Linked DNA regions of Homo sapiens. The protein of the gene in region 1 purifies or fractionates together with the protein of each later gene. This does not show direct contact. Each region holds a gene or a part of one and is shown in the gene's direction. Other genes may lie near its edges. The genes, in order: AP1S3, AP1AR, HEATR5B, KIF13A, SYNRG and AFTPH.

Region 1 (4,966 bases):
GCCTCCCAAAGTGCTGGGATTACAGGCATGAGCCACCGTGCCCGGCCAACAGAACAAGTACTTCTTGATGTCTTCATGAATTGTCCTTTTGATATTGTTTTGTTGTTACGATAGCCAGTGTTTCTCCCAGAGACCTGAAACTTCACTGTGGTTCTGTGGTTCATTTCTTCCCTGGGGCCTGTCTTTTTCTCTCTCAGAGTCTCCCTTTCTGGTATACCTAGTTTTCCCCGATACTTTCTCTGTTTAACCTGAAGTATCCAGGAAAACTCCCTTTAAACCATTTGAAGCTCCCCCATAATCTATGACATGAAAGAATGTACACAAATGTCAGAGGCAAATGCTCCTAAATTCTCTCAGTGGCATATGAAACTATCCAGCCAGCACCCTGACTAAGGAAATGTATTTCTTGACCGGGCACGGTGGCTCACGCCTGTAATCTTAACACTTTGGGAGGCCAAGGTGTGTGGATTGCTTGAGTCTGGAAGTTCGAGACCAGCCCAGGCAACATGGCGAAACCCCATCTCTAGAAAAAATACAGAAAGTATTAGCTGGGCGTGGTAGTGCACCCATGTAGTCCCAGCTATTTGAGAGGCTGAGATGAGAGGATCACCTGAGCCCAGGAAGTCAAGGCTGCAGTGAGCCATGATTGTGCCACTGCACTCCAGCCTTGGTGACAGAGTGAGATCCTATCTCCAAAAGAGAAAGGGGCCAGGGTTGGAGGCTCATGCCAGCACTTTGGGAGGCTGAGGAGGGAGGATTGCTTGAGCCCAGGAGTTTGAGACCAGTGAGACTCAGTCTCTATTAAAAAGAAAAAAAAATGTATTTCTTGTATCGCTGCTAGCAATAAGGTAAATTAAAAATCTTAACAATGAAAAGGGGATACTGAAAATCATTCAAGTTAGAAATAGAATGTTATCGACAATCATGAGGAAACTGGCCTCTGCCAACATCCCTCTTCTAAAAACTTTCCTACAGGCATCTCTGGGCTCTGAAATTCCTGGCTCTCAGTAGCTTCTGAAACTTTAGTCTTTCAGTGCGATGGGGCATGGACCTAGTACAGTCAGTTAAGAATAAGTGCACAAGAGATTCTGTATTTAATGTCCTTGTTGGATCTTCTCTAACAGGATTTTCTGGGCTGGTAAGAAATGATTGGTGTGGGTTGAAGCTCAGTGGACACTGAAATGCTACAGGAGACTTCCTTCCACACTGGGTATATCAAAGATGAGGAATGAAGGCATGGTTTGCAAACTGGGGTGCCCATACCTTCTGCGTACTCATCCTTGTAGACAGGGGTTGTCAAGGGATAAATTTGACTCATCCCTGGAGTATTGTTCAGAATGATAATTTTTTTTTTTTTTTTTTTGAGAGAGAGTCTCACTCTGTCACCCAGGCTGGAGTGCAGTGGCGTAATCTCGGCTCACTGCAACCTCTGCCTCCCAGGTTCAAGCAATTCTCCTGCCTCAGTCTCCTGAGTAGCTGGGACTACAGGTGCATGCCAACACGCCCGGCTAATTTTTGTATTTTTGGTAGAGATAGGGTTTCACTATGTTGGCCAGGCTGGTCTTGAACTCCTGACCTCAAGTGATCTGCCTGCCTCGGCCTCCCAAAGTGCTAGGATTATAGGTGTGATCCACAGCGCCCAGCCGAGAAAATATTTTTGTATTAACACACTAATATATTTGGCTCCCGGATGCAAAATTCATACATACAAACCCTAAGACATATATTGTTTATGGCTTGCAGCTTAGGCTACCCTCCTGGTCTCATGAGGCCACCTGCCTTTCCTGCTGTTACAGTTATTTGGATAGAAAATTTGGAGAGACAATTTACTAAAGCAGGGGACAGTGAACTTTCTCCGTAAAAGGCCAGATAGTAAATATTTTAGGCTTTGTGGACCCTACAGTCTTTCAGTATTCCTCAACTCTTCTGTTGTAGAGTGAAAGTGCCACGGACAAGACACAAATGGATGGAGCTGTGTTTTTTTGTTTTTTTTTTGTTTTTTTTTGAGATGGAGTCTCACTCTGTTGCCCAGGCTGGAGCACAGTGGTGTGATCTCAGCTCACTGCAACCTCTGCCTCCTGGGTTCAAGTGATACTCCTGCCTCAGTCTCCCAAGTAGCTGGGATTACAGGTGCCCACCACCTTACCCAGCTAATTTTTAACTTTTTTTTGAGATGGAGTTTCATTCTTGTTGCCCAGGCTGGAGTGCAATGGTGTGATCTTGGCTTATCACAACCTCTGCTTCCTGGGTTCAAGTGATTCTCCTGCCTCAGCCTCCTGAGAGACAAGGTTTCTCCATGTTGGTCAGACTGGTCTCGAACTCCCGACCTCAAGTGATCTCCCCCGCCTTGGCCTCCCAAGCTAATTTTTGTATTTTTAGTAGAGATAGGGTTTTGCCACGTTGGCCAGGCTAGTCTTGAACTCCTGACCTCAGGTGATCCTCCCGCCTTGGTCTCCCAAAGTGTTGGGATTATAGACATGAGCCACTGTGCCTGGCTGGAGCTGTGTTTTAATAAAACTTTATTTACAACAACAGGCAGAAGGCCAGATTTGGCCTGTAAGTCATGGCTTATTGACCCATTTTCTAGGGCAGCTTCCACTAACTCATCATAGGTATATTGGACAAATAATTTGGATGCCTGCCCCATGACAGGCAGGACTGGCTACCTAATTTGCAGTGCCCAGTGCAAAATGAAAATGCAGGGTCCTGGCTGGGTGCAGTGGCTCATGCCTGTAATCCCAGCACTTTGGGAGGCCAAGGCTGGTGGATCACCACGTCAGGAGTTCAAGACCAGCTTGGCCAAGATGGTGAAGCCCCATCTGTACTAAAAATACAAAAACTAGCTGGGTGCAGTGGCAGGCGCCTGTAATCCCAGCTAGTCGGGAGGCTGAGAATCGCTTGAACCCGGAGGGTGGAGGTTGCAGTGAGCCGAGATCGCGCCACTGCACTCCAGCCTGGGTGACAGAGTGAGACTCAGTCTCAAAAAAATAAAATAAAAATAAAATGTAGGATCCCTTTTTCAAAGTTTACCAGGAATTTCAAGATAGTGACAGCAGAGCATTAAACCAAGTTTTGGGTCCTTCTGAATGCAGGGCTTCTCCATGTAATGACCCTGTGTCCACAGAAACCAGCCATGGGTCTGGGCCTCAGAGAGTGTGTTGAACAAGCCAGAAGCCACCTGCTTGCACGGAGCTCACATTCTTGGTGAGGAGTTCTCTCAACTCTGTAAATATTTTGGATCAATCACACAGGAGAAGAATTTGATATTAAGCATTCTTGAGTCATCTCAGTTTTATTTCCTGGGAAGTTGCAGGTGGGCCATGTGGGGACCCAGATGTGGCACATGGGGTAGGGGGCAGTGTTGGCCTTGACAAAAAATTAGCTGGGCATGGTGGTGCACGCCTATAACCCCGGTTACTCGGGAGGCTGAGGCAAGAGAATCGCTTGAGCCTGGGAGGCAGAGGTTGCAGTGAGCCGAGATTGTGCCACTGCACTCCAGCCTGGGCAACAGAGTGAGAGTCTGTCTCAAAAAAAAAAAAAAAAAAAGAGAGAGAGGAGAATGTGGTGAGGGGAATGACCCCAGGGCCCTGTGTGAGCGCTTTGATCTTAGATACTTGGTTCATCCCATTTCATGAGATCACCTGAGCGTGGAATAAGACTGCTTGGTTCAATCAGCACAGGGCCTGGCACCTGGAACATATTTCATAAATGCTAGCCAGGGCTATTTCTTTTTCTTTTCTTCTTCTTCTTTTTTTTTTTTTTTTTTTTTTTTTTTTTTTTTTTAGATGAAGTCTTGCTCTTGTACCCCAGGCTGGAGTGCAATGACACGATCTTGGCTCACTGCAACCTCTACCTCCTGGGTTCAAGCAATTCTCCTGCCTCAGCCTCCTGAGTAGCTGAGATTATAGGCACCTGCTACCACACCCAGCTAATTTTTGTATTTTAAGTAGGACGTGATTTCACCATGTTGGCCAGGCTGGTCCTGAACTCCTGACCTCAGGTGATCAGCCCGCCTTGGCCTCCCAAAGTGATGGGATTACAGTGCCCAGCCTAGCCAGGGCTATTTCTAAGAGAAATGGGAAAAGCTAATGAAAATACTTTAGATTTTTTTTTTTCCTCTGAGAAATTTATTTAAACTGATGAAATAAACAAAATCGGCCGGGCATAGTGGCTCATGCCTATAATCTCAGCACTTTGGGAGGGTGAGGTGGGTAGATCACTTGAGATCAGGAGTTCGAGACCAGCCAGGCCAACATGGTAAAGCCCCGTTTCTACTGAAAATAAAAAAAAATGTAGCTGGGTGTGGTGGCAAACCCCTGTAATCCCAGTTACTTCGGAGGTTGAGGCAGGAGAATAGCTTGAACCTAGGAGGTGGAGGTTGCAGTGAACTGAGATCGTGCCACTGCACTCCAACCTGGGCGACAAAGTGAGACTCTATCTCAAAACAAAACAAAATTATGGACTGCAGATATTGGGGAGGTAGGGGAAGGTAAGGGTTACAGTAATATCACATTTTTTTTTAAAGTATGATTCAGAAGTCTGTATAGAACTTTTTAATTTTGTTGTATAAACAAGTACTTACCTTCAGTTTCATTACTAAGAAGTCATGTCTTCAGTTCTAAGTCCACTACATAAGAGAGTCCCGCCTTTCAAAGTCCATTCCGTCTCACGATAATCTAGTCTACATCAACCATCTTTGCAAAAACTATGGGGGAAGGGCAAGACTTGAATATACAATAAGGCAGATTGGTCTCTCAGATGAATGCTTGAAGTTTGTTAGTGGTAAACTTTGAAAGGGTATGATGGATATACCATTGCCCGCCTCTTACAAAATTTTGCTTGTAACTGAAGTCATCTTTGTCAAGGTATAAAAGGCCCTGGGGATAGATTTTTAATGAGTGTTGAGTAGGAAGAAAATGAAAGTTCTTAATAACCATTAAGTGGTCATTACCATGCAGGGTGTTGA
Region 2 (4,966 bases), on another chromosome or scaffold:
CAGGCTGGAGTGCAGTGGCGGGATCTCGGCTCACTGCAAGCTCCGCCTCCCGGGTCACGCCATTCTCCTGCCTCAGCCTCCCAAGTAGCTGGGACTACAGGCGCCCGCCACTACGCCCGGCTAATTTTTTGTATTTTTAGTAGAGACGGGGTTTCACCATGTTAGCCAGGATGGTCTCGATCTCCTGACCTCGTGATCCGCCAGCCTCGGCCTCCCAAAGTGCTGGGATTTCAGGTGTGAGCCACCGCGCCCAGCCAATTCCGAATTTTTTTACTATCTAAGATACACTATATACACACACAGGATTTAAAGCGTTATACAGAAACCCAAGGAACTTCAGAAAGTTGTATTTCTAATATTTCTAACCTCTTGCCATTAAGTAGGTAAAATACCTAACAATCCAGAGTAGACCCATTGCTTTTTGTTGTTGTTGCCGTTGTTTTCTTTTTAAGAGACAAGATCTCGCTATGTTGCCCAGGCTGGACTTAAACTCCTCGGCTTGAGCAGTCCTCCTGCCTCAGCTGAGTAGCTGGGACCATCGGTGTGTACCACTTCACCCAGCTTTGGAGTAGGCCTATTCTTTATAGTTTTCATAGATTCTGATGTCAGATTTTCTACATGTTTATTCTACAGTTTCTGACTTTAGCCATCATCTCTTTTATCTTTTCTTTATGTTGATTTTCTACATTTCATCTCATACAACTCAGCAAGTTTTAAGATGCTTCTCAAATACAGAAGTGTTAAAAATGAGAAGGGAGTGCATTTTAGAATCAGCAAATTGTGTATATTTCAACATTTGATCTTAGTCAAAAGGCTAAGAAGCATTTCTTATGCATTCGTATAGTTAGAACTTTAGTTTGTATGCTAATTTGCAACTTCACTAAATTAATTGTGTACGTTTCTGCAAATTACTTAACCTCCCTGGGTCTACTTTCTACATCTTTAAAATTGGTTCGACTAGAAGAACACTGAAAGTTGACACTGTCGTTTTTGTTTTCTAGGGAAAGAAGAAAATGTATTAATCTTTTCCTTTAAAAATGTATTCTTTAGTCCAGCCTTTCTCAGAGTATGTATAGAATACTAGTCTCAGAGTGTAAATTAGCATGTAAAAGATTGAGATAAACTATTGTTAAACTGAATTATTTAAACTTGTTCAACTCAGCTCTTCTTAAATTAACGTGGGTAAAAATCCTTTTTTAAAATAATAATACATATTTTTCATCTGATAGGACACATTTTGGAAACTATTTTAGCCGTTTGTTCTCCCAGTAAAATATCATTCCATTTCATAGAACTTACTTCTTTCCCTTCGCAGAGGTCACTTTTGTCTTCATGTCTTTCTCTTAAAAAGTTTAAGCAAACACTGGACATGATATTTTTAAAGCATCTGACAAGTGTTAAAAGTAAGCCTTCTTTCAGCCTCCAGTAGAATTCATCCCAGCATCGTAACACTTTTCAAGAGAACTCGTGATTCCATGGATTTTCCTAAGATGCTTTTTGTTTGGTTGGCTGAGGATTTTTTAATTTTTGTTTTTGCTAACCCCTCTTCTCCTCTCTAATTTACTTCATATTTTGTGTTTGGTTTAGTTGAATGTCATCCTGTTTTGTAGTGCTACTTTCTAAACTAATGTGGACCATTTGGAATTTTATTCCTGCTATTATATTTTAACTTTCAGTTATGAATAGTTTAAATGTGTAAGAAATAGGCATAAACCTGAATAAATCCTGAAAATAGTTATGCTTTGCTTTGGAGGAAAAAACTACAGATAATTTCATAACCTTGTGAAAGAAAACAAAAAGTTGATTCTCATTATTGTATTTAAGTTGCTGTAAATGCTAAATTAGTGAATGCTGAAGCATTACTGCAGGGGAAATACAAGGTTAGGTTCCTGCAAGCCTCTGATCACAATATGTTCATCAACCAATCAGTATATAGCCTCATTCAATGTGCGTTTCTGTGTAAGACACTGTATTAAACACATATTATTGATTCATTAACTTTGAACTCACAGCCAATAGCACAAACTCATGCTTGTATGAAGCTTACCTAACACACATATTTTCCCCATAACACACATCATAGCTTTCTTGGACTTTAGGAACACTGGAATACTTAGAGGTCATTTTAAACAGAAATCACCAGCAAAAAAGCACAAAAATGCAAACAGTGTGGCATTAAATAGACTGTAAAAAGGATACTTGTTTATAGCATGAGAGCTGAAACAAGAAAGCGGAGTGTCTGTCGCCCTGTTCTACCTCATCTGGGAATGTGCATTGCTGAGCAACTCAAAATTTTTACTGCTCCATGCCTGTCCTTGAATGACCAAGAGAGCTCAAATATTGATTTTGTGGTTACAAGTAAATTTTCCAAGTAGGCAAATTTGCAAATATAGAAACTGCAAAAAAATGAGGATCAACTGTTAATATAAATGAGAACATAGAGAATATGTTGTCTCATACCATACTGACCACAGTTCATTTGGTATGTAACAAATATTTGTTAAAAAAAATTAAGAAATGTCCAGCAAATGGTTTTATGTAATTAAGCTAGATAGTAAACTAAATTTTGCTTTGGAGAAGTAGCAAAATTTTAAAGCTTTTTGTTTCAAATATTTTTAATAGTGAAATATATTTAATAGTGAAATGTATTTACTCTGATAAAAAATGGGTAAGTTGAAAGTATTTAGATTAAATAAAAATTGTATTGGTTACTTTAAATAGAATTTAGCTAATGAATTTGTTTTAATTGTTTAATTAATTTTTGTACAGGGGGAGAGCCCAGGAAGCAGTCATAGGTAAGGCTTTGTTAAAAAAAAAAAACAAAACTTCTATGCAAACTGTAAGAAAACTCTCTTAAGAAGTCAGGCTTTATCATTTGCTTGCTTTGAGACATTAAACAGTTTACATTTCAGAACTTTCAGATTTTTCTTTTTATAAGATTGAGACAAATATCATATATCTCAAAAGACTGTTTTGAATATTAAAGAATTTAATGTAAGTGCCCAGATGCTTTCCTGTTGTACCTGTTATATGTTTTTTAGTTTTCTTAAAACCATTTAATACTGATAAGTACGTTTCTTTTAAATTTTTTAACTTTATTGCCCCTTTCTTTCCTTATGCATTCTAAAACTTATTCTACTAAATTTTTTCACATCTTTTAATAGTAACTAAAACCTTATGCTATAATTATTTAAGCAGCTTTTAAATATTTTATTAAAATTGCATGTGTTACTTGAAGTATCTTTAAGTCAAAAGAGCATTCTTAATTTCAAGAGAATAGTTTTCATATACAATGTTATATTATGAACAAATAATCCTTACTTTTTTTAGTTTAGCAAACATTTATTAAGCAACTGTCGTGTGCCAAGCACCGTGCTAGACACTGGGATTTTAAAAATCAGACATAGTCTCTCCATTAGAAGAAAGAACATCCTGGTCTGGGAGATAGATTCTCGAGATGACTAATTTCAATATGAGGTAGGGAAAGCAATTAAATAGTGATTATAGAACATTCTAGGGAACCTTAGAGAAGAGGCTGTTTGCCCAAAACAAAATCCAAGAAGACATTTTTAAGGGGATAACACCTGGTGTTGATTGTTGAAAGGTTGGTTAATGCTAACTATCCAGGCAGAGCAGGAGGACATTAGAAATTTCATAAGCAAAGTGAGAGAATTGATTGTAAAGGGGCACAAGGAAAGTATGTGAGGTGATGGAAGTGTTATGTATCTTGCTTCCAGTGGAAGTTACATGAGTGTATACAATTATCAAAACAACTTTATGAACTGAACACTTAAAATCTATATTTCATTTTATTTAAGTTATACTTCAAAGAAAAAATTTTAAAGCCCTAATATATAACTAGGGCTAGCAGAAGTTAGAGCTGAAGGGACAGAAGTAGGAGATAATACCTATAAATGGCTAGTTAACCATGATAGTTACCAAGATCACCTAACTGAGGTGGGGGTTTGGGGAGAGGTGGAGCATGGTGAGAGAGCAAGGATCTGAGGATTGACTAGGCGGACACTAGAAGAGGATTCTGAAGATGACCAAGAAGTAGTAGGCAAAAAGAAGAACCAGGAGAGCTTGGGAAGCCGAGGGAGGGGAGACAGACAGACAGATGGGAATGGTTAACACTGTCCCATGAAACTGAGGTAGTAAGATAAGGACTTAAAATTGTGTATTGTATTTGGCAACATAGAAGCCATTGATTACCTTTGCTAGAGTTATTGGAGTTATGGGAGCAGAGGTAGACTGCAGCGAGTTGACAAGTGAATGGGAGGTAAGGACATGAAGGCAAGAGAAGAACAGTAGTTAAGAACAAGAGCTACACTACCTGGGGTTCAGATTCTGGCTTTGCCACATACTATATGACTTACTTAGCCATACTCTTAATCTGTCTTCGTTTCACTTCCCTCATATGTATAATCCTTATATCTACCTTAGAGGGTTGTTGTGAGGATTACAATTTGCTAATATATGTGAAGCATTGAGAAGAGAGCCAGGCACATAGTAAGTGCTAGGTATGCTGACTATTGATATTATACATTTAATTTCAGGACTTGGCTGAAAAAAAGAGGGAGCAGTAGCTTGAGATAGATACAGGTCAAATGGAGGTTTTTTCCTTAGTTTCTTCTTTCTTCCTTCCTTCCTTCACATGGAAGAGAGGTGCAAACAGACAAAAGGAATAGGTTAAAGGTAAAAGAGAGGTACTAATTGATAGAACAAGGTCCCAGAGAATTGCCTGGAGTGGGGCAGGAGAGATGGGCTCAATGGTGAGTGAGTCAAGAGTGTAAATGTAGTAGGTGACTCTGAACAAGTTAAGAACATTCCTCTTTAGAGGATGGTGAGGAGAATAGGAAGGATATATGTAAGTAAGTGGGGGTTGCCACAAAGTTGGGGCGATTCATGGTTGATACTCCTCATTTCTTAAAGTGGAGTGAAATTGCCTTTTAAGATAAAAAAAAGT
Region 3 (4,444 bases), about 190 Mb from region 1:
TTTATTATGAAAGCCAGCTTTTATAATACTATTAACTTTTTTTTTTGAAAGGGAGTCTCGCTTTGTCGCCCATGCTGGAGTGCAATGGCACGATCTCTGCTCGCTGAGACCTCTGCCTCCCAGGTTCAAGCGATTCTCCTGCCTCAGCCTCCAGAGTAGCTGGGATTACAGGCATGTGCCACCACACCCAGCTAATATTTTTGGGTTTTTTTGTTTTGTTTTGTTTTGTTTTTTGAGACAGAGTTTCGCTCTTGTTGCCCAGGCTGGAGTGCAATGGCACGATCTCGGCTCACCACAACCTCCGCCTTCCAGATTCAAGCGATTCTCCTGCCTCAGTCTCCCTAGTAGCTGGGATTACAGGCATGCGCCACCATGCCCGGCTAATTTTTTTTTTTTTTTTGTATTTTTAGTAGAGATAGGGTTTCTCCATGTTGGTTAGGCTGGTCTCAAACTCCTGACCAGGGGATCCGCCCACCTTGGCCTCCCAAAGTGCTAGGATTACAGGCATGAGCCCACCGCGCCTACCCCTATAATACTATTAACATTGTACATGAGGGAAATTGAACTAAATCTAGAAGATTGGAGGATTTACCTGGGACTTTAAAAATAAGCTTTTTACCTCTTTTCTGAAAACTTAATATGGAAACAAATCCATTTAATTGGAAACTTCTGGGTAGTTGCCAAGAGAAAGAGTATGTATGTTTATTCATTCAAAGCATAGTTACTGGATGGCTGTGTACCAGGTAGTGTTCTAGGCATTGAGAATTTCTCGTGAAATAAAACAGGCAAAGGTCCCTGATCTCATGGAGCTTACATTTCTGGTAGGAAAACACAGACAATAAACACTTCTCGTCCCCTATACGTGTGTGTGTGTGTGTGTGTGTGTGTGTGTGTGTGTGTGTGTGTGTGTATCTGTGTCTGTTATATGTAGACATGTATCTTTGTGCAATTTTATATAGTGATGATGGATATATCAATTTTAGATGTAGATATAACATCTATAGTTAGATGCAGGAATTGATAGGAGCTGTGAAGAAAAAAATACAGCAGGGAAAGAAAATAGGGAGTAAGGTCCAGGGTGGAACTGGGATTCTGGAAAGGCTTCACTGATTATTATCACTGTCCTTGCTGACATCAGTGAGTGTCACACATTCTCTACCAGATGCTTCCTCCTGCCTTACAATTGCGTCAGTTGTCATTCTACAAAAATTAACAGTAATTAAGGGGGAGAACGCGTAATTCTCAATGTGATTATGAGATGTTATACACACACACAATTACATATAAAGGTTAATTGTTAAAAAAAATCACCTTTAATGAAACTTATATCCCAGGATGGAGTTGTTAATATAAGTAAAGACAAAAGACTAACAAAAGGAGATGAAGCCTCCAAATAAATACTTTTTTAAGGACTTGGAATTTATATCAGTCGGACATAGGTTCTTGTTTTTTTAACCCTAAGCTTATGTATTCCCTTAGTTTTGAGGAATTTCCCCTCACTGTGAGTTTTGGGGGATGATGAAATAGGAAAAAAGTTGTATTGTATTTCTACTTAAAGAGGAAAGAAACAACTAGTGTTAGTTAAATAATGGTAAATAGATGCTTTTCAGGTTTCTGTTCCTCACTCCAATCTCCTGATTCTAGAATGCCCGTAAAAATTTTATAATCTTACTCTCAAGATACATTCTACCAGGTGGCAATTGTAAAGTGTTTTATTACTTTTTAACCTTTGGCCCTTTTTTTTTTTTAAGTAAAGCAAATTAATATAAATGTAAAATATACAATATTAACAAACCTGGTTTCCAGCTTGTACATTTAGTAAATATTTAATATTAATTACGAGTTATTGAGGTCTAAAGTAGGCTGTGCATGTGTACTTATATTTTATTATGTTCAGTCTTCCATGGCAATTGCCTAGTTTTTAAAGTTTATTATAATCCTTATGTTTGTGATCTTTTTTCATACTTTATTATTTACAGGAGTCCAGCTACTTGCTCTTTTAGTTCCCACTTTGATATCTTACCTGCTGGATGAAAATTCTTTTGCCTCAGCAAGTTCAGCTTCCAAAGATCTTCATGAGTTTGCACTCCAGAATTTAATGCATATTGGACCTCTGTATCCACATGCTTTCAAGACAGTAATGGGGGCTGCTCCTGAGTTGAAAGTGCGTCTAGAAACTGCCGTTCGAGCAAGCCAAGCGAGCAAAGCTAAAGCGGCTGCCAGACAACCAGCCCCCGCCATACATTCTGCACCAACAATTAAGCTAAAAACAAGTTTTTTTTAATTTGTAATTTCATTTATTTGTATTTATGTTGTCAACTAGCCCCTAATTAGTGATGGCCACTGTATCATTCCAGGCTACCTATGGGTTCTGTTTTATTTGTATATTGGTATTATAGTGCTTCCAAGTAGGTTAAGTGAAATAATGCTCACACCACTTATTGATTTTTAAGGAGTGATTTTTTTTATCATGTGGTGAATATGTTTTCATTTTCCTCCTAATAATGTTTCTCTTTTGTTAACTTATTTATTTTTCAAACACTGAGCCATAGTCTTAAATTTAAATGCTAAAAACAATTGTATCATGTAGTCGGGCAGCCTATTGATACTGTCAGGGGAAAAAAATGGGTCAGAACTCAGCATCTGTCATGAAAAAAATCAATTGAAAAACAAGCAGATTTTAAATTTTGAAGTAATCAAAATAATGGAAAGTGTCTGTTTTGTGGTGTATATACTATGAATAAAATCACAGCATTTTCTAAGCATTTCCCAAAATGTCCTTATCTTTCTGATGGATCTTTTAGCTTTCATATCAAATTACTAAATTATGCTATGTATATTTTAGTTGGTAACAATTAAAATTCTCATTTAAAGGTTCACTAAAATGTTTAAATGTAATATAATATTCTGCTTTTTTTAATGGCTAAAATTTGGCTTCAGTTATGTTTTGTAATTACAGAACCTCAAGTTCTGGCTATGATGGTTAGTTTCCTTCATCAAATATTTATTGAATGCCTACTGTGTATAAGGCATCAAGCTAAGTGCTGCAGGGGATACAAAAATGAATTAGGCATAATTACAGTGATGCCATTCTTTCATGTAGTGGGCATTTTACCGTACGAAATAGATAATTCACACAATGAATGTTTGCCACAGCATTTAGCAAATTTTAAACACCAAGTTTTACCGCACAGTGTAACAGACTGAACAAGTATTATCAAAAGCAAGTCACTTTCTGAACATTTATCTTCTTTTCTCTTTTCCTTTCTTTTCCTTTTTCTTTTAGAGACAGAGTCTTGCACTGTTGCCCAGACTGGAGTGCAATCATAGCTCACTACACTTGAACTCCACTCAGCCTTTTAGATACCTGAGATAGGTACTTTGTCTTGCCTGTTTTCTCACTGACTTTTGGGTGTTTTTTTCTTTTCTTTTTTCTTTTCTTTTTTTTTTAGATGGAGTCTCTCTCTGTCGCGCCCAGGCTAGAGTGCAGTCGCGCGGTCTTGGCTCACTGCAACCTCCGCCTCCTGGGTTCAAGCAATTCTCCTGCCTCAGCCTCCTGAATAGCTGACATTACAGGCACCCGCCACCACACCCAGCTAATTTGTATTTTTAGTAGAGACGGGGCTTCATGTTGGTCAGGCTGGTCTCGAACTCCTGACCTCAGGTGATCTGCCTGCCTCTGTCTCCCAAAGTGCTGGGATTACAGGCGTGAGCCACCATGCCCAGCTTCTTTTCATTTTTGTTTTGTTTTGTTTTGTTTTGAAGCAGGGTCTCACTTTTGCCCAGGCTGGAGTGCAGTGGCACATGACCACGGCTCACTGCAGCCTCAATCACCCAGGCTTGAATGATCCTCCCACCTCAGCCTGCCAAAGTGCTGGGATTACAGGCGTGAGCCACCACACTTGGCGCTGGTTGTTTTTTCATTTCAGGTTTGCATTGCCACAATTATTCTCCTTGGTTTTTGTTTTTGTTTTCGCTAACAACTTCATGGAGATCCAGTTCACATACCATACAACTCAATTCAGTTTGGGCATGGTGGCTCACACCTGTAATCCCAACACTTTGGGAGGCTGAGGCCAGGAGTTTGAGGCAGCCTGGGCAACACAGCAAGTCCTCATCTCTACGTTAAACAAAAAGAAAATTAGCCAGACGCAGTGGTGCACTCCTGTAGTCCCAGCTACTCAGGAGGCTGAGACAGGAGAATTGCTTGAGCCCAGGAGTTTGAGGCTGCAATAAATTGTGATCATGCCACTGTATCCCAGCAAAGTGTACAGTTCAATGGTTTTTAGTGGTGCCACCATCACCACAATCAATTATGAACATTACCCCAAAAAGAAACCTTGTATCCTTTAGCTATCCTCCTACCATCTCCCCATTTCCCCCCAACTTAGGCTACCACTAATCTACTTTCTGTCTCTGGATTTTCCTCTCATGGACATTTCAT
Region 4 (4,966 bases), on another chromosome or scaffold:
TCGTCTTTGGGGAATTATGTTTTGTGGGAAATAGGCTGCTTTCCTTTCAGCTTATTTGATGGAAATCTATTGTTAACATTACAAAGAAAGCTGTCTAGTCTTTCACTTGCTAGTTTGTGTCCTTCTTTGTTATTTGTAGTAGCATTTAACTTTTTTTTTTTTTTGAGATGGAGTCTTGCTCTGTCGCCCAGGCTGGAGTACAGTGGCGCGATCTTGGCTCACTGCAGCCTCCGCCTCCCGGGTTCAAGCAATTTTCCTGCCTCAGCCTCCCGAGTAGCTGGGACTATAGGCACACGCCGCCACGCCTGGCAATTTTTGTATTTTTAGTAGAGATGGGGTTTCACCATGTTGGCCAGGATGGTCTTGATCTCCTGACCCCTGACCTCATGATCCACCTGCCTCAGCCTCCCAAAGTGCTGGGATTACAGGTGTGAGCCACCACTCCCAGCTGCATTTAACTTTTTAAACCATTTACAAAGCACTTTCTTTTTATGATATTTTGGTTTTTTGGGGTTTCTTTGTTTTTGTTTTTTTGAAAGAGTCTCACTCTGTCGCCCAGGCTGCAGTGCAGTGGCACAGTCTCGGCTCACTGCAACCTCTAACTCCCGGGTTCCAGAGATTCTCCTGCTTCAGCCTCCCAAGTAGCTGGGATTACAGGCACCTGCCACCACGCCCAGCTAATTTTTTGTATTTTTAGTAGAGACAGAGTTTCACCATGTTGGCCAGGGTGGTCTCAAACCCCTGGCCTCAAGTGATTCATCCACCTTGGCCTCCCAAAGTGCTGGGATTACGGGCGTGAGCCACCAACGTGTATTAACTGTGGAGCTTTATTGTTCTGCATATTTTATACTTAAACCAAATAAACATTCCATAAAACTAATTTTTCATTTTTTCTTGACAGATCGCTTACAACCTTGGGGTTGGTTATATCATCACTGGCTGACCAGGCAGCTGGCAAGGGTAAAAGCAAATTTGTGCCTTATCGAGATTCAGTCCTCACTTGGCTGCTTAAGGTAATCCATTGCTCTAGTGTTCTTTTCCAACTAAAAATTGGCTATTCCAGATGTGACAGAGTAAAGGTGTGTACAAAGCTAACCAAATACCTAAAGAACTCTCCTGATGACAGTTATTCTAATTCCTAGGAACACAGAATGAAAACTATTTTCTACTCCTTTTTATTCCATTTGAATGCTGTTTGACAGGCCTTATTCATTGCTTGAATATAGAGAGGACACATTTCATCTTGTCATGACGTTATTTGTGAAATGCAAGTCCATTTCCACATAATGTTTCCTTCATAGAGAATAATGTCATACCTAACACATTTAGTGCTTTTATCATATGTGTTGTCCATGGAATGGGCTTCCTAAGATGCTGTTTGAAATACTTGGCAGGACAACTTGGGGGGCAACAGCCAAACCTCTATGATAGCCACAATCAGCCCAGCCGCAGACAACTATGAAGAGACCCTCTCCACATTAAGATATGCAGACCGAGCCAAAAGGATTGTGAACCATGCTGTTGTGAATGAGGACCCCAACGCAAAAGTGATCCGAGAACTGCGGGAGGAAGTCGAGAAACTGAGAGAGCAGCTCTCTCAGGCAGAGGTAAAAGCAGCCTGGTACTCCCTGCTGGTAAAGTTCCCTGGCTTGCGGGATTTGACTGGCAAGGGTGTGCTCATTTGCAATTGTAGGTCATCTGATATGGTTTCGATTTATGTCTCTACCCAAATCTCATGTTGAATTGTAATCACCAGTGTTGGAGGAGTGGCCTGGTAGGAGGTGATTGGATCATGGGGGCGAACTTCCCCCTTGCTGTTCTCGTGATAGTGAGTTCTCATACAGCCTGTGGAACCATGAGCCAATTAAACCCCCTTTTCTTTATAAATTACCCAATCTCAGGTATTTCTTTATAGCAATGTGAGAACTGACTAATACATCATCTCAATGTGGTTCAGCACTTCAGTGTTTATTGGCATCTGCCAAATGCTAAGCATTGTGAGGACCAACATGAGTAATACCATACTCTGTCCTAGGAACTTATAGTCATGGAAACAAACAAATAAGAGATAATTCCTGCTACTACCTGATCATTTGCTTCCCTAAATCAGTTGGCCTTTGAACTTTCAGTGGGAAAGTATGTTGTTTATATTAACATTATAAACTATTATTTCCACAGGGCCTTGCAATTTTCAGAGAATTTAGTTAGGTGTTATCTCCTTGTTAAGCTGTGGAAACGGCGTGATCAAAGATAATTAAACATTAGGAATAATTCAGAAATCTTTTTCTTTTCCATTTATATCAGGCCCTGACAAGAAACAAAATCTTTTTGCATTGTTATCTTCTTTCTTTGGCTTTACTGAAACTTTAATAATGATATACTCTTCTAAATAGGTGTTGCTTTTTGCAAATTATTGGGTGAGGCACTGTCTTATTTGAAATATTTAAGAGGACAGCTTTGGAGGCCAAGTGCCTTAGTTTAAGTCACAGGGTTCCACATGCCAGGACTTGGGAGTGTATCTGACACTTCTAAGTTCACATTCCTTCACCACTCTCTTCTGACCCCACTGTAGTTGGGAGAGTACTAAGTTGTAAGAAAAAAAGAAAGAAAGAAAAACACAGTTAATGGCCATTATTTATGGAGCATTTACATGCCAGGCACTATGTTAATACTTCTATCCATCAGCATATTTTATCAAAAAGTAATCAATAGAAGACTGAAAAAACAAAAAGGTGAAGCCAAGAGTCTGAATACTCTATTAATTGGTGATCTTGGCATTACATTGTAATTGTTTGTTTATATATCTTTCTCTTCTTCCAGGCTGTGGCTCTTAAAGTACAAGATGCTGTGTTTTATTGATTTTTTTATCCCCAACCCCTAGCCTAACATTGATACTAGAAAGCACTTACCACAATACCTTGCACATAGTAAGTTCTCAATAAATGTTGCTGATTTTTATTATAATTTATAATCATTCAGTGCATAAAGTATAATTTTCAGATAGATTGTAAGAAGGGTAGCAAAACACCAGAAAAATAAAAATGCTGATAAACCTTGAAAATAGTCATGATGCTAGGAGGAAAGTATAATGGTTCTGCAATGTGTTTATAGGTGGATTATCTACTTATTTGCATTTTTACTGTGACCACATAATCTGGGCGAGATGGCTCAAGCAATACCTGGCTGAAGGAAACAGAAGAAGAGCCAGCCACATAGGTCCACCTAGAATTTTCTTTTTCTGTTTCTTTTTTTTTTTTTTTTTTTTTTTTTTTTTTTTTTTTTTTTTTTTGGCGGGGGCGGGTGGACAGAGTCTCTCTGTTGCCCGGGCTGGAGTGCAGTGGCACCATCTTGGCTCACTGCAACCTCTGTCTCCTGGGTTCAAGTGATTCTTTTGCCTCAGCCTCCCAAGTAGCTAGGATTACAGACAGGCATGCGCCATTATACCCAGTGAATTTTTTTTGTATTTTTAGTAGAGACAGGGTTTCGCCATGTTAGCCAGGCTGGTCTCAAGTGATTCACCCACCTCAGCCTCCCAAACTGTTGGGGTTACAGGCAGGAGCCATTGGCCTGGCCTATAATTTTCATATATGTCCCACTGTACTCAGCACTAAATGCCACTGTCAGGCTCTGTTAATACCATGAGCCTCAGGCATACTCAGCTAGCTTCCAGATCATCACATCCCAGCTTCTTGTCCAAGCTCTGCCATCTTTCTTGTTCATAGAGTTTTAACTTTGTAGAGGCTCATGTTACTTTAAGGTGTCAAAGCATATTATTGACAAGTAAAGGCCTCTCCCCTCAAAATTTTGTTAAGCTGCAAGTATCTGTATTGAAACCTCTTAGTTACTCTCCCTGAACAAACTAGAAGGGAAACCACTGCCTTTTTAGCCAGCTGTGCTGCTTCTGGGTGAATGATAATGATAAATAACAAAATGCATGACCATCAGTGGAGAAAGGTAGTCTAAAGGCCCAGATTCAAAATTTAAAATACATGAGAAGTCTTTACCTTTTCTAGCAGATTAATTTAACTGGAATTCATTTATTGATGATGAGTGTTAACCTCCGTCTTATTGAAAAAGAAGTCTGCTTAAGTAACCTTTTGTCCTGCTTATCTATTTCAAAGTTGAACGTTAGCATCTTTTAGGGCTTTAAATGTGAAATTTAAGTATAATGGATAAAATGACTAATGATTTGTTTCATTTTCATTCAGGACACTGGTATTTCTTTTTCAGGGAACAGCCATGTTCTCTTACATTCGTTTGATTAATAAAGGTTAAAAACCCACCCTAACAGCATATAACTTAATTTTTTCCAACAGACTATTGATAACTGCTTAAGAGGGACAGTAACTGATTGTCTTGTATATGATGGTGGAAAAATTTTGAACATCAGATATCTCTGATTTCATTTTAAAGGCCATGAAGGCCCCTGAACTGAAGGAGAAGCTCGAAGAGTCTGAAAAGCTGATAAAAGAACTAACAGTGACTTGGGAAGAGAAGCTGAGAAAAACAGAAGAGATAGCACAGGTAGCTTGATAATTTAGCCCTAAAATATTGGGATTCTTTTTCACTTATTGTCTTTTCTGTGTAGTTTGCTGTCATCTTCAGAAAGTCTTTTTTTTTTTTTTTTTTGAGACGGAGTCTCACTCTGTCGCCCAGGCTGGGGTGCAGTGGCGTGATCTCGACTCACTGCAACCTCCACCTCCCGGGCTCAAGCAGTTCGCATGCCGTAGCCTCCCGAGTAGCTGGGATTACAGGTGCCTACTACCATGCCTGGCTAATTTTTATATTTTTAGTAGAGATGGGGTTTCACCATGTTGGCCAGGCTGGTCTCAAACTCCTGACCTCAGGTGATCTGCCAGCCGCAGCCTCCCAAAGTGCTGGGATTACAGGCATGAGCCACTGCACCCAGCCTCAGAAAGTCTTTTAAGGGCCCTTTTCTGCTGAACCAGAGATTGCAAAGATCACT
Region 5 (4,966 bases), on another chromosome or scaffold:
AGAATTGCTTGAACCCAGGAGGCGGAGGTTGCACTGAGCCGAGATCACACCACCGTACTCCAGTCTGAGCGACAGAGCAAGAATCTGTCTCAAAAAAAAAAAAAAAAAAAAAAGAAGAGGGTTGTGGTAGCGAGGAAGAGCCTCTGCCTGAACTAAGGTGAGTAGCCAAAACCTTTGACTGTATTATCCCCTTCTCCCAGGATCACACAAGAGGAGTTTGAGCCTTGGTGATAAAGAAATAAGCCGTTCTTCTCCTTCTCCAGCTTTGGAGCAGCCTTTCAGAGACCGTTCCAATACTCTGAATGAGAAGCCCGCCCTGCCCGTCATCCGAGACAAGTACAAAGACCTGACGGGAGAGGTGGAGGTGAGAGGAGAGCTTTCTACAAGGGGTGGGTAACAGACCAGCAAGCACACAGGGCCCCAAGAAAGAATGCTGTCAGCTTTCACATGGGGAAAATGAGGGGCAGAAAGACACAAAGCACCAGACATAAACTATGTAATTAAAGTGAGGCAAGGGTAACATTAGCCCTGGGTGAAAACATTTCCCAGGTGTGGCACCCACTGAAACTAATCAGTGACCCTAAAACCAAAACTATTCATGGGACTTCACAAGGATGGCAGTGTTTGTATAATTCTTCTTGAGCACTTAGACTTTATTGTCTTCATGAAACCTCAAAATAGAGGAGACAGGGAAAATATTCTGAATTTTTTATTTCTGTCTGCTGCATCTTAGTGCCACGCTATGTTCCTCCTATGGTCAACACACTTAATTTCCCACCTTTCCCTACTCCTTGTTACATGTGCACATGGGCCACGTCCTCACACACAGCCACACAGCGTTATAACTGGGGCGTGGAAAGCCAGTGGCTTAATAGCAGTTTCTGTACCAGATAGCTACATGCTGAGTGCCTCCGAAGAAAGGCTTACACTGTTACTGATGGAACAAATGAGGCAACACTCACAGGGGGAAGCTGCTGGAAAGCATGTCCCTTAGACTCACAGGTCCTGTGCTCAGAAGTTACATTTATTAGTAATTTAACATAGTTATTAGTGAGTTCAAAAAGATAAACTGCGGCTGGGCATGGTGGCTCATGCCTGTAATCTCAGCACTTTGGAAGGCCAAGTCGGGCAGATCACTCGAGCTCAGGAGTTCAAGACAAGCCTGAGCAACATGGTGAAACCCCACCTCTACCAAAAATACAAAAATTAGCCTCATGTGGTGGTGCGTGCCTGTAGTCCCAGCTGCTCTGGAGGCTGAGGTGGGAGGATTGCTTGCGTCCAGTGCAGTGAGCAGAAATCATGCCACTGCACTTCAGCCTGGGCAACAGAGCAAGACCCTATCTCAAAACAAAAACAAAAACAAAAAAAACATAAACTGCTTGAACTAGAGTGATCGTAATAAAAAGGAAAGTCCTCCAAGCACTTTGAATTGACAGAGTCATCAATAGAAGATTCCAGGTTTGTGTGTTTAACCCAGTTCTTTTTAACAAATTCACAGGAAAATGAGAGATATGCATATGAATGGCAGAGATGCCTGGGGAGTGCCCTGAATGTGAGTATGTCACTTACGCGTTCACACATATGTGAGTGCTCTTTTGTGCCTTTTTGCCTTCTTGGTTCATTTGAATTGACAGAGGCAAACTTCAGGAGAGCCTTACTTGGATGTCCCTGGGCAAAGAGTAACTCTGTGGAAGTCATGCATCTAAGGTGAGGCTTCTTTCACACTTACAATAGCAGACCGGCTCATGTGTCAGTCATCCCCTCATCTGTCATTGTGTTTAAGAAATAACAAAGTGATTTCATTAACTCTGACTAAATCAAAATAATATTTAAGCTAAAGAACCTGTCTTGGCTGGGTGCGGTGGCTCAACACCTATAATCCCAGCACTTTGGGAGGCCAAGGCGGGCGGATCACGAGGTCAGGAGTTTGAGACCAGCCTGACCAACATGGTGAAACCCTGTCTCTACTAAAAATGCAAAAATTAGCCAGGCGTGGTGGCACGTGCCTGTAATCTCAGCTACTCAGGAAACTGAGGCAGGAGAATCACTTGAACCCGGGAGTCAGGGGTTCAGTGAGCCGAGATCTTGCCACTGCACTCCAACCTGTGCTACAGAGCGAGACTCCGTCTCAAAACAAAGCAAAACAAAACAAAAGGAAAAAAACATATTTTCTCTTCCAGAGAAATGGAGGATTGTTTCTTCAAGGATAAAATGAGATTTTTTGACACCTCCTGGCTTTTCGGTTGGGTTTTCTACTAATAGTAAATTGATTTGCAATGACTTTTCTCAGTTATGTAAGGTGATGTGATTTCATTTCTTGTAGGTCATTAAGAAGGCAAATGATACCTTAAATGGAATCAGTAGTAGTTCTGTTTGCACAGAAGTAATTCAGTCAGCTCAAGGCATGGAATATTTATTAGGTATGTTCTTTCATATTTTACTATTGAAAATGATGGCCCTTTGCATTATTTTCAGTTTTCCCTTTAATTATTTTAAGCTAGATCTCTCAAGTTACATATGACTTCAGTAAGAAGCATCTGTATTTGTGGGTAAGACACTCAAGCTACAGGCAGTAAACTATTGGACTTAATTAAAAAGTCTCTATGGCTAAGTTTCCTCATCCTTGTTATATACGTAATAGCAAAAATGTAAAATTATATCTGTGTTACTGGTTTATCAAAGAATCTGAACTACCGATGCACTAAAGTAAAATCATCTTGTCTCCCATCAATTCCTTACCATACTCTATATTCTTTCTCTCGACCGCTTAATGACACCACAGAGTCCTTAACCTCCTGGCCATCTGCAGCAATTTGATGTGTCAGTCCAACGGGAAAGTGTAGTCTCTGTCCACTTCGGTGTTCCTCCCTTCCCCAAGCTCAGGCTTGGCCCGTGGCCAGAGCCACACATGCTGGACCCTAATCTTTTTCAAATCTTTACTCAAATGTCAGCTTCTGAGTGAAATCTTTCCTAGCATCCATCTCTCCAAAGAGTATCGTCTCTCCCTACCCCGGTACTTCCCATCCCATTCTCTGCTGGATTTTCTCCTTAGCCCTATTACCTTTAATTTCTTACATATGTTACTTATTATTCTTTTCTTTTCTTTTCTTTTTTAAGACAGGTTCACACTCTGTCACCCAGGTTGGAGTGTAGTGATGTAGTCATGACTCACTGCAGCGTCCACCTCCCAGGCGCAAGCAATCATCCCACCTCAGCCTCCCAAGTAGCTGGAACCACAGGTGTGCACCACCATGCACCCAGCTAATTTTTGTAGTTTTTGTAGAGACAGGTTTCCGCCATGTTGCCCAGGCTGGTCTCGAACTCCTGAGCTCAAGCGACCCACCCACCTTGGCCTCCCGAAGTGCTGGGATCACAGGCGTGAGCCACTGCACCTAGCTACTTGTTGTTTTTACTCTCTGTCTCCCTTCACTAGAATGAACCTCCAAGAAGGCAAGGATTTTGGTCTGTTTTGTTCACTGGTGTGTCCCCAACACCTAATCTAGTGTCTTGCACGTAGTTGGCACTCAAAAATATTTGCTGGATGAGTGGAGAGTGAAGGGATGTAGTCTCTGCCTTACTCCTGCCACCTCACTTGGGGTCTTCTTTTCCTGCTCAAACAGGCACAGTTCTGCATAAGCAGATGTCCACCAGGAAATGGGGCACCTGTCTTTTCTCCTAGTATCCTTGTATCTATGGAAGATTCTCTTAGAAGCCCCCTCACTTGGCTTAGGGTGGGCAGTAATTTCTGCCCCTCTCTTGGGAAAGGAAGAAGAAAAGCCGTAGTGCTGACACAGGGCTGCTGAGGCCCCGCTCTGAAGATCCCCTGGAATTCCTCCAGTGTTCACTTAGAGAGATCGGGGTCATGTCTTTGGTGACTGTTACATTGCAGGGGTTAGGGATGTGTCTGGTGGCTGTCCTTAGAATGTGGAGGTACTTAGCACCTCTCATCCTTGCTTCAAGAGTTCAACCACAATTTAGAGACCATAGGAAAAGAACTGTTCTGCATCCTGTTATGTGTTTAAAGATAAGTGAAGTCAAAGTGTTTGTAAGACCTTCAGATTCAGAGGGGTGAGATGTTTCTTCATTACTTTGTGATGCTATTAACATTTAGATTCTTTTAAATTTTTACTATCCCCATTTTCAGCTAGTTTATTGGGATTTCCCAGATTCAAACAGATGGACTCATAAATAAACCTCCCAAAAAACAAAAGCTAATAACTTGCATAGTGCCTGCCATTCTCCAAGCACTGTTGTAAGCCTTTTACCATATTACCCTATTTAATCCTCTCAACCATCCTTGGAGGAGCTACTGTTACCATCCCAACTTCACAGATGAGGAAACTGAGGTACAGAGAGATTATGTGACTTGCCTAAGGTCATGTAGCCAGTAAGAGGCATAGCTGGGGTTTGAACCCAAGCAGTGCAGCTTCTATGCTCTTACCAGTAAGCTATACAGCAGCATTGAGAAGTGGATTGGTCCCAAAGAATAGTAAGTACACCTCTGTCCAGATACACCCATTGTTTCTCACAGATATCAGCAAGCAATAATGCTCCCCTGTCTGGGTCCTCTGTGTCTCCACTGCCAACACTCTCTCTCTGCTCTCTCATCCCGTCAGGTGTTGTTGAAGTGTACAGGGTAACCAAGCGTGTGGAGCTGGGGATAAAAGCCACTGCAGTGTGCAGTGAGAAACTCCAGCAGTTGCTGAAGGACATCGATAAAGTATGGAATAACCTAATCGGCTTCATGTCACTCGCCACACTCACAGTAAGCCCATGAGACAACTCAGCAGTTGCTTTCCTTTCCAGAAACCTAAGTTGTAAAGCAGAGTGTATATTCCTATGATGGTACTTATTAGAGGCTGGAGGTGCCAACTGGAGCATGTTATATTAAAGGAGGGAGATCACAGGTGTGTGGTCAGTTGAACAGTACCAGGTGGGCTTCTGATCTCTCTAAGGCCCAGTGAAC
Region 6 (4,966 bases), about 160 Mb from region 1:
ATGGTGGTAGACGCCTATAATCCCAGTTACTTGGGAGGCTAAGGCAGCAGAATCGCTTGAACCTGAGAGGCCAAGGTTGCAGTGAGCCGAGATCGCACCACTGCACTCCAGCCTCGGTGACAGAGTAAGACTCCATCTCAAAAAAATAAAAAATAAAAAATAAAATAAATAAATGCAGAAACTGGAGTCTTGGCCCCTGGATCTATAGCCCTCTATTGAAGTGTTATTATACCAGTCATTTACTTACTGGAATTAACTAGTAGTAAGTTAAATTTGGCCTTATTTATTACCCAAAACAAGATAGTGGTGAGAAACTCATTACAGGATGCCCTTACCACCAAACTGGTCTTATGGAAATTGATACACTTTTTTTTTTTTTTTAAGACCAAGTCTTGCTCTGTCACCCAGGCTGGACTACAGTGGCATGATCTCAGCTCACTGCCACCTCCACCTCTCCTGGTTCAAGTGATTCTCATGCCTCAACCTCCTGAGTAGCTGGGACTACAGGCGTGCGCCACCATGCCCTGCTAATTTTTGTATTTTTAGTAGAGACGGGGTTTCACCATGTTGGCCAGGCTGGTTTCAAACTCCTGAGCTCAAGCAATCCACCCGCCTCGGCTTCCCAAAGTGCTGGGATTACAGGCGTGAGACACTGCACCTGGCTGGAAATTGATACACTTTTAAAAATAAAATGTCAGAGTAAATTTAATAAAAATATTTGGGCTGGGCGCAGTGGCTCACACCTGTAACCCCAGCACTTTGGGAGACCGAGGTGGGTGGATCACGAGGTCAGGAGATGGAGACCATCCTGGCTAACATGGTGAAACACCGTCTACTAAAAATACAAAAAATTAGCTGGGCGCGGTGGTGGGCACCTGTAGTCCCAGCTACTCGGGAGGCTGAGGCAGGAGAATGACGTGAACCTGGGAGGCAGAGCTTGCAGTGAGCCGAGATTGCACCACTAAACTCCAACCTGGGTGACAGAGCGAGACTCTATCTCAAAAAAAAAAAAAAAAAAAGCCTTTGTTCATTCTATTAGTTGCTGAATTGTTGAGGAGTTTCCCTCCCTGTGTTGGGCAATGCTGTTAGTGGATTCTGGTTATTTATTATTTACTGCTCTACCTCAAGGGGCAAACCATGACCCACAGGACAAATCTACTGCCTGTTTTTGTAAATAAGTTTCACTGGAACATACCCATGCTTATTCCTTTACATATGGCCTACAAGGCCTAACATATTTACTGTCTGGCTCTCTATAGAAAAGATTGCTAATCTCCTGCTCTATCTTATTCAACGTAAGATTTGAAGCAATCTAATGTAATATCTGATCCTAAACATATATGAAACTTTCTTTAGAAATTTCCATTCAACTTACATCCTTTTTTGCCTCAGCTTCATTCCACTCATTTGAGAATTTTACTGGTGTCTTGACACCTGGCAGTTATGTGTAACATTGCCCAAGTGGTTGGATGTGTTTTAGGGTCATTTCTTTCTTCCTGTGGTAAACATTTTTTTCCTATCCCATTAAAAAGATAACAAAGAGGATACAAGAAAGATTTAATTTACAGAGAAATAAAATTTGGCCATGTTAGTTTTTTGTTTACCTTCCCTGCCCAGGAGGAGCCAATCATGTATCCAATTAGGTGGTTATCTGATCCCTTTGAAAATAATGTCTGTCCGTTCTCTCTGTTGAGGCAAGTGAGAGCAAGGGCCCCTTGATGCACTCAAGTTTCACAGGCCTTGGGATCTTGAGGCTACCCTTTACTTAGGGTTCATAATTGATAGTGAGAACCTTTTCCAATATCACACACATGAATATAATTATGATGTGAGAATAACTTTTGTAGAATTACAAAAGAGTACCCTAAGACTAATTATGCAGTGTTAAGTTTTTGCTCTGATACAGCTTCCAAAAGAGATTTGGGTTCAGAAAATGTTATGAAATTTTTTTTTTTAATTTTCCTGGGTGCTCACTACACTACAAAACAGAAATCAAGCATCAACTTGTTTTTGTTACTTGGCAGGAAGTACCACCATGATGTGGCATTTTGCTTTTACAGTCTGTGTCAATTCAATAGTAAACTTAATCTTACAACAGGCTTTAACTTAATAACAATTTGTATTCCCAGTTGATGTTTAAATGGTAAATTGGGCTAAGTTGGAAAATATATTACATGTATCTGAAATAGTTAGGAAAATAGGAATGAATGTTATTGTAGGTTGCACATGTATAGTAAACCTAGTGGTACCAAAACTAAGTTGATCTAAATCCAGCAAGTTTTAGTTAATAAAAATACTTTAAAAAAAAAAAGCCAAGAAATGTATCTGTTTGTTCTTGGTGGAAATACTCTGGGGAATATGCAGGCTTTACTTGGGAGAGAGGTAGTGTAGTATTCTATTCAAAAATATACATGCAACAAAGACGAGTAGAGAAATGGAATTTCTAAAAGATAATGCATATCACCAAAATGATGAATGAGCTTTCGAATTTTTTATCAGTAAAAATTGAGACATTCTTTGCTACTTTGGTTTGTACTGTTAGCAGCAAAGATATTTCCAAAAGGCTATCAAAATTCATGTTTATGTTCAAAAAAAGATTGTTTAGCTATAATAGCATAATACTTCCCACAAGCATCCAATCTTATTGTTCCTAAATCTAGAGTAGATGAGTGGTAGTAAGAGACATTCCAGTGTGGTGGAAAGAATATAAATGCTCTCTGGGTTTTTTTGGTTTTGCTTTGGGCAGATTATTCAGACATTGAGATTGCTTTCTCACTGTACAATTGGGTAATTTCTTTTTTGTAGAATTTTGTAATAGATTAAGATAATGCATGTAAAGTAGCAGGTATATTGCTTGGCATGTTGCTTTTAATTGCCAGCTACGTAGCTCATCATCATCATTTAAATTAATCATTTAGAGTGATTGTTTCATGAGTAGTTGTGTTCTTTTCACTCAGTGTTTTCTGATGGTTCTCTTCCTCTCTCACAGTAGTGGACAGGGTGTGCGTGTGTTTGCATTTTAATGCTATAACTATGATATTATCAAAATTAAATGAAAATAAACTTTTGGGGGGTGTTTTGATGCAGACAGCTTTATTAAACCGCCTGGAGCGAATTTTCGAAGCATGTTTTCCTTCCATACTTGTCCCTGATGCTGAAGAGGAAGTTACTTCCCTGAAGCACTTGCTGGAAACAAGCACTTTGCCAATAAAAACGAGAGAGGCCTTACCTGAAAGTGGGTAAGTAGGAGACTGTTTTTAGATAGCATGTGTTTTTGTTATTTTTAGTAGTTCTAATTTATAAGTTTATCTTAAAACATTAAGGTTCAGGCCAGGCGCAGTGGATCACCTGAGGTCAGGAGTTTGAGACCAGCCTAGCCAACATGGTGAAACCCTGTCTCTACTAAAAATACAGAAAATTAGCAGGGTATGGTGGCACATGCCTGTAATCCCAGCTACTTGGGATTGAGGTTGAGGCACAAGAATCGCTGGAACCCAGAAGACGGAGGTTGCAGTGAGCCAAGATCACTGCACTCCAGCCTCAGTGACAGAACAAGGCTCTATCTCCAAAAAAAAAAAAATTAAGGCTCAAAAACATTGTGTCAAAACCTAAACTCCCTGCCTTTTTACTTTTGAGCTATTTCTTTTTATATTTCTAAATCAATAATCAGTTGATGTTATATATTATTTTTTGACTTCTTAGAATGAAAACTGAAAATTTAGATTTTACCTCTGCTATTCTCCTCCCCTCATCTTCCCCATATATCAGTTTTTGGTTAATTTCTTATTTGGCATTTTCATTATTATAATCACGTATGTATTGTTGACTCAAGCCACTGTTTTCTTTATAGTACAACTTCTTCCTGGACTTCTCTTTTTCATTAATGTTTCCCTACCCTTTAAGAGCTTGTTCATACACTTGTGATCCAACACCTTATCATTCTGCTCCCATCTAGAATGGTTTCAGTCTGGGCTTACACATACATTGCCTCGGGACTTCCCTTCACTTAGATCCCATTTTGGTGGAGCATATCCTCCAATAGCCTTCTGAGAAAAAAGGTAGATGGGAGGCAAATTTTTACTCTACTCTCACATTCAATTTATAGTTTAAGATCTGTTTGTTGCTGATATTCTGAAATTTCACAGTGAAATACCTTTTTTTCTTTGAGACAGTCTCGCTCTGTTGCCCAGGCTGGAGTGATCTCAGCTCACTGCAACCTCTGCCTCCTGGGTTCAAGCAGTTCTCCTGCCTCAGCCTCCCGAGTAGCTGGGATTACAGGCACCCAGCACCATGCCTGGCTAATTTTTTGTATTTTTTAGTAGAGATGGGGTTTCACCATGTTGGCCAGGCTGGTCTAGAACTGCTGACCTCAGGTGATCCGCCTGCCTCGGCCTCCCAAATTGCTGGGATTACAGGCGTGAGCCACCGCACCCAGCCTTAGTTATTTTTCTAGTGACTATAAGTATTGGCTCTTGATTTCATTCAAATAGTTATACACTTACGTTGGACCCAAGAGTAAATGGAATGTGTGTTATGTCACAGCCATATTATAAGTAGAACTCATGGTGAAAGTTATTGAGTAACCTGTTGTTGATGGCTTCATCATGGCCTTTGCAGGGAATTGCTAGATGTGTGGACTGAGCTACAGGATATCCATGATGCACATGGCTTGAGATACCAGTGGGGCGGCTCCCATAGCAACAAGAAGCTTTTGTCCTCCTTGGGAATAGACACCCGAAACATTGTGAGTTTGTTAGTACCTTGAAAAATCTTTTAATCAACCTGTGGATGTTTTAAAATTCTGTCATACTTCTGTTTAAGCTGTGGTAAGCTAGTTCCTCAGAAAATAAATATTTGGTTTAAATGTTCACTTATATTGAATGTGCTGACTTTTAAACATCAGTCTACCTAAATTTTTCTCTAATCAATACTTATTTTTAGAAAAAATTGTTTTAGTAGTTTTTCT

What was found.
Region 2: the proteins of AP1S3 (region 1) and AP1AR purify together in Homo sapiens (affinity purification with mass spectrometry; one large-scale study listed by BioGRID and IntAct). This does not show direct contact.
Region 3: the proteins of AP1S3 (region 1) and HEATR5B purify together in Homo sapiens (affinity purification with mass spectrometry; one large-scale study listed by BioGRID and IntAct). This does not show direct contact.
Region 4: the proteins of AP1S3 (region 1) and KIF13A purify together in Homo sapiens (affinity purification with mass spectrometry; one large-scale study listed by BioGRID and IntAct). This does not show direct contact.
Region 5: the proteins of AP1S3 (region 1) and SYNRG purify together in Homo sapiens (affinity purification with mass spectrometry; one large-scale study listed by BioGRID and IntAct). This does not show direct contact.
Region 6: the proteins of AP1S3 (region 1) and AFTPH purify together in Homo sapiens (affinity purification with mass spectrometry; one large-scale study listed by BioGRID and IntAct). This does not show direct contact.

Annotation. Positions count from the first base shown.
Region 1 is NC_000002.12:223,826,876-223,831,841, reverse strand, and holds part of AP1S3 (AP-1 complex subunit sigma-3), read left to right. Parts: intron 1-4,966. UniProt on the Homo sapiens protein: Subunit of clathrin-associated adaptor protein complex 1 that plays a role in protein sorting in the late-Golgi/trans-Golgi network (TGN) and/or endosomes.
Region 2 is NC_000004.12:112,255,003-112,259,968, forward strand, and holds part of AP1AR (AP-1 complex-associated regulatory protein), read left to right. Parts: intron 1-2,769; coding exon 2,770-2,795; intron 2,796-3,330; exon of another isoform or gene 3,331-3,457; coding exon of another isoform or gene 3,458-3,477; intron 3,478-4,966. UniProt on the Homo sapiens protein: Necessary for adaptor protein complex 1 (AP-1)-dependent transport between the trans-Golgi network and endosomes. Regulates the membrane association of AP1G1/gamma1-adaptin, one of the subunits of the AP-1 adaptor complex.
Region 3 is NC_000002.12:36,979,330-36,983,773, reverse strand, and holds the end of HEATR5B (HEAT repeat-containing protein 5B), read left to right. Parts: intron 1-1,979; coding exon 1,980-2,284; 3' UTR 2,285-2,879; downstream 2,880-4,444.
Region 4 is NC_000006.12:17,833,519-17,838,484, reverse strand, and holds part of KIF13A (kinesin-like protein KIF13A), read left to right. Parts: intron 1-901; coding exon 902-1,013; intron 1,014-1,394; coding exon 1,395-1,607; intron 1,608-4,413; coding exon 4,414-4,524; intron 4,525-4,966. UniProt on the Homo sapiens protein: Plus end-directed microtubule-dependent motor protein involved in intracellular transport and regulating various processes such as mannose-6-phosphate receptor (M6PR) transport to the plasma membrane, endosomal sorting during melanosome biogenesis and cytokinesis.
Region 5 is NC_000017.11:37,535,778-37,540,743, reverse strand, and holds part of SYNRG (synergin gamma), read left to right. Parts: intron 1-200; coding exon 201-364; intron 365-1,498; coding exon 1,499-1,552; intron 1,553-2,323; coding exon 2,324-2,420; intron 2,421-4,616; coding exon 4,617-4,765; intron 4,766-4,966. UniProt on the Homo sapiens protein: Plays a role in endocytosis and/or membrane trafficking at the trans-Golgi network (TGN). May act by linking the adapter protein complex AP-1 to other proteins. Component of clathrin-coated vesicles.
Region 6 is NC_000002.12:64,564,475-64,569,440, forward strand, and holds part of AFTPH (aftiphilin), read left to right. Parts: intron 1-1,375; exon of another isoform or gene 1,376-1,516; intron 1,517-3,087; coding exon 3,088-3,239; intron 3,240-4,617; coding exon 4,618-4,744; intron 4,745-4,966. UniProt on the Homo sapiens protein: Component of clathrin-coated vesicles.